Linked DNA regions of Homo sapiens. The protein of the gene in region 3 purifies or fractionates together with the protein of the main gene of each other region. This does not show direct contact. Each region holds a gene or a part of one and is shown on either strand. Other genes may lie near its edges.

Region 1 (3,351 bases), on a different chromosome or scaffold from region 3:
AGCCATAATCTTATTGCTAGCTGCTTTTAGCAAAAGTCTTTTCTTGAAACCACCACCTATACTCTTTAAACAAATAAAAACTAAAATCTCTTGCTAATGTTTCAGGAAGATTTATTTTTTCTATTTTGCTATTGTGGCGAAAATTATTTTCAGTTATAGGATACTTTTTTCCTTCTGAAAAGTAATAAGCTTAAAGTTTTTGTTTCTGTAAGATGTAATGATAGTAACTATTATTTTGGGCATATTAACCAACAGAACAATTATGTAGTATGTATATCACTTTCTCATTAGATCTCTAACTTGACCTTCTAGTACCTTTATGTGTGAGGATAAATTTGTTAGATCCTTTTATTCTCAATCTTGGATAATGATGCAAAATGGAATTTTGTTTTGTTTGTTGGTAGATTCACATACTAAAACTTTGCAGGTAAAGTTGCTTGCCTCATGTTAGAATTTAATTAGAAAACTGAGGCTGCCTTTTTTTTTTTTTTTTTTTTTTTTTAAGACAGAGTCTTGTTCTGTCGCCCAGGCCAGTTTTTTTTTTCTTGTACAGATGGGGTTTTACCATGTTGCTCAGGCTGGTCTCAAACTCCTGGAGTCAAGGGATCTATTTGCCTCAGCCTCTCAAAGTGCTGGGATTACAGGTGTGAGCCACGGCTCCTGGCTCCTTGCTCCAGAATCAGTTTTTTAATGGAAGATAGCTCATACTTTGTTTTTGTTTTTAAAGAGACAGGGTCTCACTCTGTTGCCCAGGCTGGTAGTAGCGTGATCATAGCTCACTGCAGTCTCAAACTCCTGGACTCAAATAGTGCTCTGGAGTACCTAGAACTACAAGTGCCTACCACCACACCCAGCTAATTTATTTGTTTTTTTTTTTTTAGAGATGGGGGGGGTCTCCCTATGTTGCCCAGGCTGGTCTCAAACTCTTCACCTCAAGCAAAACTCCCACTGCAGAAAGCTTTGGGATTACAGGCATGAGCCACCATGCCAAGCCCATACTTATTGTTAATAAAGTTTCAGTGACTTGCTTACTAATCTTATGCAAAATTTCATGTAATTTATGTAATACTACATAACAATGCTACATATGGTATGTATACATACACTGTATACACACAAAGGTCTGTTCTGGGTATTTTATGTATCTTATCTCTAGGCTTTATGGCTCTGAAATGGAGGGAACTGGACATAAATGTTTCAAGGAATAAAGTGAATGTTTTGTTTGTTTGTTTGTTTTGAGACGGAGTCTCAGTCACCAGGCTGGAGTGCAGTGCTGTGATCTCAGCTCACTGCAACCTCTGCCTCCTGGGTTCAAGCGATTCTCCTGCCTCAGCCTCCCGAGTAGCTGGCATTACAGGTGCCTGCCACCATGTCCAGCTAATTTTTGTGTTTTTAGTAGAGATGGGGTTTCACCATGATGGTCAGGCTGGTCTCGAACTCCTGACCTCATGATCCGCCAGCCTCAGCCTCCCATAGTGCTGGGATTATAGGCATGAGCCATGCTCCCGGCCAAAGTGAATGTTTTGGGTGAAGTTTATATAAGGATTTGACTTTTGTATCATTATTAAAGTTTCTGTCAGGTAATACAGTGTTGGCCCTCTGTTGAAATAAAATGTTACATATCGCTGGGTGTAGTGGCTCATGCCTTTAATCCCAGTACTTTGGGAGGCCAAGGCAGGAGGATTGCTTGAGCTCAGAAGTTTGAGACCAGCCTGGGCAACATAGCAAAACCTTGTCACTATAAAAAATACAAAAATTAGCCAGGCGTGGTGGTGCACGCCTGTAGTCTCAGCTACTCAGTCGGCTGAGGTGGGAAGATGGCTTCAAGCCGGGAGATGGAGGCTTCAGTGACCTGTGACCTGTGATCACACCACTTAATTCCTCAAAACATTTATGTCCCAGTTCCCTCCATTTCAGAGCCATGGGCAACAGAGCGAGACCCTGTCTCAAAAAAAAAATTACATATAAGCCCGGTTTAAAGAGAGGATAATATGCAACCACCCTAGTTGAAACAGAGTGTATCACTTCTTTCTCACCCTAAATTTAATGCCTAGTTTGAAAATCAGTAGACAATAATAAAGTTGATAAGCTTTAGGTTGGTAGGAAAGCTATGTAATCTATATAGTGTACTAAATCCTTATATGTTTTTGGTAAAAAAAGACTTTAATAGCTAATTTGGACTTCAGAAAATGGGTTAATTTCACGAGTGCATATCACTTTTGACTATATTAGTCAAGCATATTATTAAAGTTTAAAAAACTCTAAAACTTCTGTACTGTTTTTTTCTTAAGTGCTCTCTTCCTTATTTCTACATTACTACATTCACATTTCTGCTGTCAATAAGCCCTAATGGAGTGATAAACTTTAAGCTAGTAGATACTGCACCATGTCTTGTGGTGGTGTTTTCTTAATGAAATGGAAGCTGTACTTCCTGTTTGTTTTTAAATACTTTTGAAACAGACAGTTCATGTACCCCATCATTTAGAGATGCAGTTTGAATTTCCATGGAAAAAGGTGCCAATTTTGGATTGGGAAAGGAGCTGAAGCCCCAGTCAAGACTTTGCCATTTGGGGTAATGCAGCAGATTCCTGTGTCTGTATCTTTCCAGTGTGTGTGTTAATCCATAGTGTTCTGAGCACCAGAAGGGTCATGTAAATCTGAAGTTGTTATTAAAGGTTTTTCTATAGTGAAAGATGTCTTTTCTGATTCATTCTTGTATGTTACTTTCCTGAATTGCTATTCCCTCTGCCCCCTGCAAGTCCTTGTCTGATCACTGGTACCAATACTTTGTTTAGTATGAGTTGTATTAGCATTAACTTAAAAATTTTTAGGCCGGGCGCAGTAGCTCACGCCTGTAATCCCAGCACTTTGGGAGGTTGAGGTGGGTGGATCACAAGGTCAGGAGTTCGAGACCAGCCTGGCCAATATGGTGAAACCTCGTCTTTACTAAAAATACAAAAAAATTAGCCAGGCATGGTGGCACATATCTGTAATCCCAGCTACTTGGGAGGCTGAGGCAGGAGAATTGCTTGAATCCGGGAGGCAGAGGTTGCATTGAGCCGAGATCGCGCCACTGCACTCCAGCCTGGGTAACAGAGCGAGATTCCATCTCAAAAAAAAATTTTTTTTTAACTTAAAAATATACAAAAAAGGCAAAATACTGCACATGTAAATGTGATAAATATATTTGGAAGAAACCTAGTCTATTTTTTATTTTTTTATGTCTTTGAGACAGTCTCATTCTGTTGCCTAGGCCAGAGTACAGTGGTGTGATCTCAGCTTACTGCAACCTCCCCCTCCTAGGTTCAAGTGATTCTCCTGCCTCAGCCTCCCCAGTAGCTGGGATTACAG
Region 2 (3,659 bases), on a different chromosome or scaffold from region 3:
CAGTAACAGTCTCTTCAAGTGGTTTCTTAAATGTTTTTACTAGAGTGGCAAAGATGGGATAGAAAAGTTCTTTACTCAATTTTTGAAAATTGATTGTCTGAATCCCCACATTTGTAAGGTTTTATAGGAAAACAAAAGTTATAACTTGAAGATATTCAGTAAGGAAACTGACCACTTAACATTAGTCACCACATATCCTTTCCTGCTTAATGTTGCCATGTATCCCCACTCATGTCAACAATAGAGATTGCTAAATAGTACTTTGGCCAATATAATGCAAATATAATACAGATTGGTTTCAAAATGGAATTTAAAATTTTGAAAAACATAGAGAATTTCATGAAATTGATAAAAATAGTAAGAGGACTATTCAATCATATGCAGAGCCACAAAGTGAGGCCACTTAATAACTGAAGAATAGAAAATCAGGGAGGATTATTATAGGATAAGCTCTTCAGAGAATAATTTTAATATAAAATTTTTTAATAGAACTTGGAGGTAGAGGAATACATGAAACATTCAAATAAAATTACCCTCTTTATGATAAATATGGTAATAACAACCTAGAAGTGAAAAATATATCACACTTAAATATAATTTTTGTCAAGACATTTTAGCTCACCCAAGTGAAAACTCAGTTCAGTCTAAGAATTAGAATATAGTTATGACTATTGACTAAATTTTGTTAAATGTAATATGAAATAAACTTGTTTTCATTTCTTTTTTCAAGATAAAGTTCTAATGAAATCTTTTTTTTTCTGCTGTTTATCATTTAGTTTGAGGTAGAATCACTTAAAATAGACTTTTTCAGGCAATTTAGTGTGGTAGTAAGAAAGCTAACTCGAGCAAAAAACTGAGTTGCAGTCTAATCTACTACTTAATACTTAGGTGCCATTAGGCAAGTTATTTTACATTTTATTATTCACCTGTAAAAGGAATAATAATGGTCCTTATTTTATAGAGTTATGATGATTAATTGATCTAATACATAAAAATCACTTAAGATAGTGCTTGGCACATAGTACACAAAGAAGTCATTTTTTGATGTATTAATTGTCTTTGGATATAGACAGTTAAATTATCATTATCTTGTCTTTGTTTTCCATTTTTCTGAGCTCAGTTTTTATTGAGAAGCCCGAGGCCTTAACATCCTCATTTTCAGCTTTCAAAATCAAAAACAGTGTTATACCAAAAATACTAGGAATTAACTAGGAGAAAGTTTTAAAAACTGTGTTCTCTAAGTCTATAATAAAATGTTAGTAAACTGTATACATTTTTCTGTTTTTATCTCTGAAAAAAATTCAGTACCTGTGCTTATTTTTAAAAATTACTATTTTAATGTTCTCAGGCACATATCTGGCTCAGACCTCTTTCTCAGTGCAAGTTACATCTATAACCATTATTGTGACTGCAAAGACCAACATTATTACCTTTCTGGGGATAAAATCAATGATGTGATCTGCCTTCCAGTGGAAAGATTATCTCGTATCACACCTGTATTGGCCTGCCAGGACAGAGTGCTCAGAGTTTTACAGGTTGCTGTTATTTGTATTTTTCTAATTTTTTATATTATGTGAAAGAATATCAATGAACATTATGTACTTGAGATAAATTAGTGGTTACTGTTTTAAGGGCTTTTATAAACATGTGGAAACAATTTTTAAATAATTTGACATATTAATTTTTTTAACTTGAGTCAAATGTGTTGTTTTGTAAGTTTTTAAGAGAAGCATATTTGGAAGAAAAAGGATTTTTTTTGCCTCACCATACACAATTTCTGAGCTATTATCAGAATGGAGTACTTTGACTACAGAGAACCTTTACCTGCCTTTTTGTTTTGTTTTCTTCTTCCATCACCTTTATCTTCCCCAAAAATCAAATTAAAGGAAGAAATTGGGTTGGAGGGAGGATGTTATATAACTTGAGTTTATCCAGTGTTTATGGAAGTATATGGAATAAGCACTCAGTAAATATATGTTGGATAAGTAAATGAGTGATAGAGGGAAAATTCATTTTGATGTCCTTATATTTCTGGTAAAAACCACGATTGGCTAAAACAACTGCTTCAGGTCATTGTTATGAGTAATAATAGTTACCACTATATCTTCTTGAGAGTGACTTTCAATAAAATATATGCACACACACACACACACACACTCTATAGGATGCTTAAAATAATGTTTAAAGGTAAATAGCATGTAACAGTTAGATGAACTGTATCAGAAACAGGCTGATATAGTTGGTGCAGTTGATGAAAAAGTTGAGCTGTGAAGTCCATGCCACCACAGGCTATCTCACTCTTTGGAATTCCATAGTCAGATGGCCATTTCTTGGCATCAGCCCTTTTGTAAAAGGAAAAATCCAGTGAGTCTATGAGGTTTTTACCCCCCAGGGACAAAGTAATGTTAAAGGTTCATTTTAGGCCAGGCATGGTGGCTCACACCTGTAATTCCAGCACTTTTGGAGGCTGAGACGGGAAGATCATTTGAGGCCAGGAGTTTGAGACCAGCCTGGCCAACATGGTGAAACCCTGTCTCTACTAAAAATACAAAATTAGCTGGGTGCAGTAGCACACACCTGTAATCCCAGTTACTCAGGAGGCTGAAGCACAAGAATCACTCGAACCCAGGAGGCGGAGGTTGCGGTGAGCTGAAATTGCATCACTGCACTCCAGCCTGGGCAACAGAGGGAGACTCCATCTCAAAAAAAAAAAAAAAAGAAAAGAAAAAAGGTTCATTTTAGAGTTATGAATGATTAATTTCCCCCATAGCCTATGCTTTTAAATATGAATTGTTTTGAACAAGGCTTTTAACAGGAGCTGTTTAGCATTCAATTAGAAATTGACTGAATTCTAGGATTCTGCTTTGACAAGAGATCCATATGCTTATTATTTTTAAAATAATTACTAAAGATCTGTAGAAAATAAAGTTGAAGTCTTTCCCTCTGCACCGCATGCTTTTTTCTCACTCCCCGTCTATCTCTGTGAATAATCCATTACTCCAGAGGTTGCCTCTTTTTAACAGTTTTGTGTATATTCTTTTGTGTTTATATAGTTACGTGTAGATATCTGTAAATTTTAATATGATATTTTAAATAAAAGATAAAACAGGCTGGGCACAGCGGCTCAGGCCTATTACCCCAGCACTTTGGGAGGCCGAGGTTGGAGGATCACTTGACTCCAGGAATTCAAGACCAGCCTGGGCAACATAGCGAGACCCCCATCTCTTAAAAAAAATTTAGCTGGGCATGGTGGTGCATGCCAGTAGTCCCAGCTACTCAGGAAGCTGAGGTGGGAACATCATTTGAGCCCAGAAGGTCGAGGCTGCGGTAAGCTATGATCACACCACTGCACTGCACTCCAGCCTGGATGACAGAGTCAGATCCTGGCTCAAAAAAAAAAAAAAAGATAAAGCATATGGCTTTCTTACGTTTTCTAAATAAACATTAAACTTTTTTTAGTCCTGATGTGGTGGCTCACGCCTGTAATCCCAGCACTGTGGGAGGCTGAGGCAGATGGATCACCTGAGGTCAGGAGTTCAAGACCAGTCTGGCCAACATGGTGAAACTTTGTCTCTACTAAAAATACAAAACTTAGCCAGGCATGGTGGCCTGCACCTGTAATCCAGCTACTCGGGCAGCTGAGACAGGAGAATCACTTA
Region 3 (3,659 bases):
AGATCACCTGAGGTCAGGAGTTTGAGACCAGCCTGGCCAACATGGCAAAACCCCGTCTCTACTAAAAATACAAAAAATTAGCTGGGTGCGATGGCAGGCGCCTGTAATCCCAGCTACTTGGGAGGCTGAGGCAGGAGAATTGCTTGAACCCAGGAGGCAGAGGTTGCAGTGAGCCGAGATTGTGCCATTGCACTCCAGACTGGGTGACAAAAAAAAAATTAATAATTATTTAAAAATAGAAATTGATAACTTGATAATCTTTTATTAAAAATAAAAGACTTTATTAGGAGTTGAGAGTGTTGGTGATATCTCATAAGAAAAATTCTGGAACACTTTTTTGATAATATTAGATATAAAAGGCGATTGTAATATGAGACTTTTTGAAGATGAGGTCTGATACAGTGATTTGTTTTTCAGGACCTCATAGTTCTTATTTGTATAATTATCTTCTTCACAGAAAATATATCATTCTTTGATTGTTTTACTAGTTAAATGTAACTCAAGTAGTAATAATGTGGAAGCATTTTTTAACATCTAACTGTAGATTTTACTTTAGGTACCGAATAACTAGTGAGTCAGTAGGATACAATTTAACTGTACTTGTTACCAAACTGAGGTCCAATCCACAAAATGAAGAGCTCCTTTTCTTCTAATTTAGGCTTCGTTTTATCCACGTTCATAAGAATTTTTAATAAATTGTGTTAACATACTATATGAAATCCTAGCCTGGAAGAATTAAGCATGACAAATCCTAAGGGACCACTGACAACATTTTGATCTAATAGCTAAAGACCATGGGCATATGAGCAATCTGTTTTTTCCTGGAGACCAGTTTATTTTTGGCCCAATTCTCAGAGATGTATCAGGATAGCCGATTATATGCCATATTATATGATGTATGGGCCTCCAATAATCTCTCATATAATCTCCCTCAAGTAATCTGAAGCATATTTCAGATCTGATTTTCAGGTCCCTATGGCTCTCAGAATGATCAATGCCCTAGGCTTGTTCTGAAGTAAACTCATAGGTTCATTCTGTAAAAGGAAAGTCCCCCAGCCAGCTCTGCTCAACTGAATCATTTAGAAATTAGATAGGAGACATTTCTTTCTTTTTAATTTTAAAATATTACAAACATATGGAAACTGCCTAAAATATAAATGAATTGGTTTCATGAACTTATGGGAACTTTGACCTTTCCATTATATAGCAATCGTATTACTTTATTATCTCCTTCATTACTATTTAATAATGTGGCATTTTTACTTACTAAAAGATGAATGGTAGCTTATTCAGTTTTGATGAGTTCCTTTAAACTGCCTCCTAGCTAAAATACTGCTTATTTAATATTTTCATGACATTTTGGTAAATTAAAAAAGTAATTTGTCTCTAAATTTCTAAAACTTTTAATTTTAGCTGAATGCAATGGCCAACAGAGCAGCTGGAAAAGGTTATGAAAATGAAGACAACTATTCCAATATTAGATTTCAGTTTGTTGGAATTGAAAATATTCATGTCATGAGGTCCAGCCTTCAGAAATTATTGGAAGGTATATTATTGCTTACTTTTTTAGACACCCTTGTCCAAAAGAAATCTAATGCTAGTCACATGTAATTTAGAATTTTCCAGTGGTCACATTTTAAAAAGTAAAAAGAAACAAGTGAAATTAATTTTAATAATATCCTTACTTAATATATTATAAACATTATTTTAACATGTAGTCAATATAAAAAAAATCAGTAATGAGATATTTTTCTTTTCATCAACTCTTAGAAATCAGGCATGTATTTTACACTTACTACACATCTGAGTTTGGACAAGCCATATTTCAAATGTTTAGTAGCCGTATTTGGTTAGTGGCTGCTGTATTAGACAGTACAATTCTAATGGTTTTGCAAAAAAAATGTTATTAGATAGATATTCTTGAGTAGTCAGTACAATAAATACTAATTTGTAGTAATGTTCATTTAAATATTCCAGTCATAGTATAGAATTTAAAAAATTAAAATATAAGATTATTTTTAGTTAGATGCTTGTGCTACAATGTTTTTTAAGAGATTGGAGCATTTTTGTAAGCACGGGAATAATAGAAAAATATATCCAAGAATCAGTTATTGAGCTTTTAATAGCATCTTTTCATTTATAGAGTCTTGCCTGTTTATTTTGTCTTCTTTCTTCATTCACTTATCTAGAGAGATCTTGAAAAAAGAAATGCAGAAACTCTAGCCATATTCTAATTGAAATATTTTTATACCTCTTTCAGTCAATGGCACTAAAGGGCTTTCTGTCAATGATTTCTACTCCGGTTTGGAGAGCTCGGGATGGCTTCGCCATATCAAAGCTGTTATGGATGCTGCAATCTTCTTGGCCAAAGTAATACTTTATCTTTCATATTTGGTCTTGGGGTCTATAATGATTGGGAAGGAGTAGATGTATTCTGTTGGGGGCTGGTATCTATTCATCAGATAACTTTTATTATTTTTTACCTCTTTAATGAGCTTCACTTTATTTTCAGCCTTAAAAATATCATGTAGCACTTAATGTAGAAACTTAAAAAGATGCTCCTAAATACTTTGAAGTGGCATTTTTTCTTTGTTTTTTTTTTGTTTGTTTGCTTGTGTTTTTGTTGTTACCATATTTTGTTGTGTATTTTGGAAATTATGCTGTGACATTATCATTGCAGGCATAGCACTTCCTTGTAACACAATACCTGCTAGTATGATTTTCAAGTAGAATTTATTGGTTTACCTTAAAGTACGCTAGAATGTATGTGATCTTTCTTTTCAGGCAATAACAGTTGAAAATGCAAGTGTGTTGGTGCATTGTTCCGATGGTTGGGATAGGACTTCCCAGGTTTGTTCCCTGGGTTCTCTTTTATTGGATTCCTACTACAGGACAATCAAAGGATTCATGGTAAGGATTTATTTGGTTAGACCAATGGTTCTTAAGTAGGAGTAATTTTATGTTCCTCCAGAGGACATTTGGCAATGTTGGAGACAGTTTTGCACTAAAGGAAATGATGAGACTGGCATCCGTGGGAGTGGCCAGGGATATTGCTAACTAAACATTTTATAATGCACAAAATTTTTGCTGGGGGGTCAGCCTCACAGCAAAGACTGATCTGGCCTGTAATGTCAGTACTGTCGAGGTTGAAAAACCTTGAATTAGACTTATTTCCATTTGTGCTAACACTGACAATAAGCTTTAGATTTAAATAATTTTTTTTCCTAAAATGTTGCAATGGAAATATTCAGTATTTTCTCCCTCATTTTTATCTAACAAATGTAAATAATGTAATAAAACAATGCACAAATAAGAGTACTTAAAATTAAATTCTGAAGGAAACCTTCTATTTAAAACACCTGCATTAGTAAGTGTAATAACATATTAGGCATGTTTTATATCTGAAGATAAAATTTCTAGTTGAATAGATTTTCTCCTTTGTGAAGATAAAGACCTAGTTCCTTTTTTTTGTTTCTTTGCTTTTAAAGGTATGATCAGATTTTTATTTGCTTGCTTTTAAACGTGTGAGCAGATTAACTTATGTTTTCAAAATTTACATCTTAACTCATGGTAAATTAAATGAAGAGATGTTAGAAAATTTTCATTAGTCTTGAATTATTAAATACAGTGCCATCTTAAAGCAAAGGAAGATTTAAAAT

Evidence for each region.
Region 1: the proteins of MTMR6 (region 3) and SOAT1 purify together in Homo sapiens (affinity purification with mass spectrometry, with the first as the bait; one large-scale study listed by BioGRID). This does not show direct contact.
Region 2: the proteins of MTMR6 (region 3) and BBS7 purify together in Homo sapiens (affinity purification with mass spectrometry, with the first as the bait; one large-scale study listed by BioGRID). This does not show direct contact.

What each region holds. Positions count from the first base shown.
Region 1 is NC_000001.11:179,355,989-179,359,339, forward strand, and holds the end of SOAT1 (sterol O-acyltransferase 1), read left to right. Parts: 3' UTR 1-2,692; downstream 2,693-3,351.
Region 2 is NC_000004.12:121,856,868-121,860,526, reverse strand, and holds part of BBS7 (BBSome complex member BBS7), read left to right. Parts: intron 1-1,348; coding exon 1,349-1,535; intron 1,536-3,659.
Region 3 is NC_000013.11:25,256,447-25,260,105, reverse strand, and holds part of MTMR6 (phosphatidylinositol-3,5-bisphosphate 3-phosphatase MTMR6), read left to right. Parts: intron 1-1,413; coding exon 1,414-1,546; intron 1,547-2,260; coding exon 2,261-2,370; intron 2,371-2,784; coding exon 2,785-2,910; intron 2,911-3,659. UniProt on the Homo sapiens protein: Lipid phosphatase that specifically dephosphorylates the D-3 position of phosphatidylinositol 3-phosphate and phosphatidylinositol 3,5-bisphosphate, generating phosphatidylinositol and phosphatidylinositol 5-phosphate.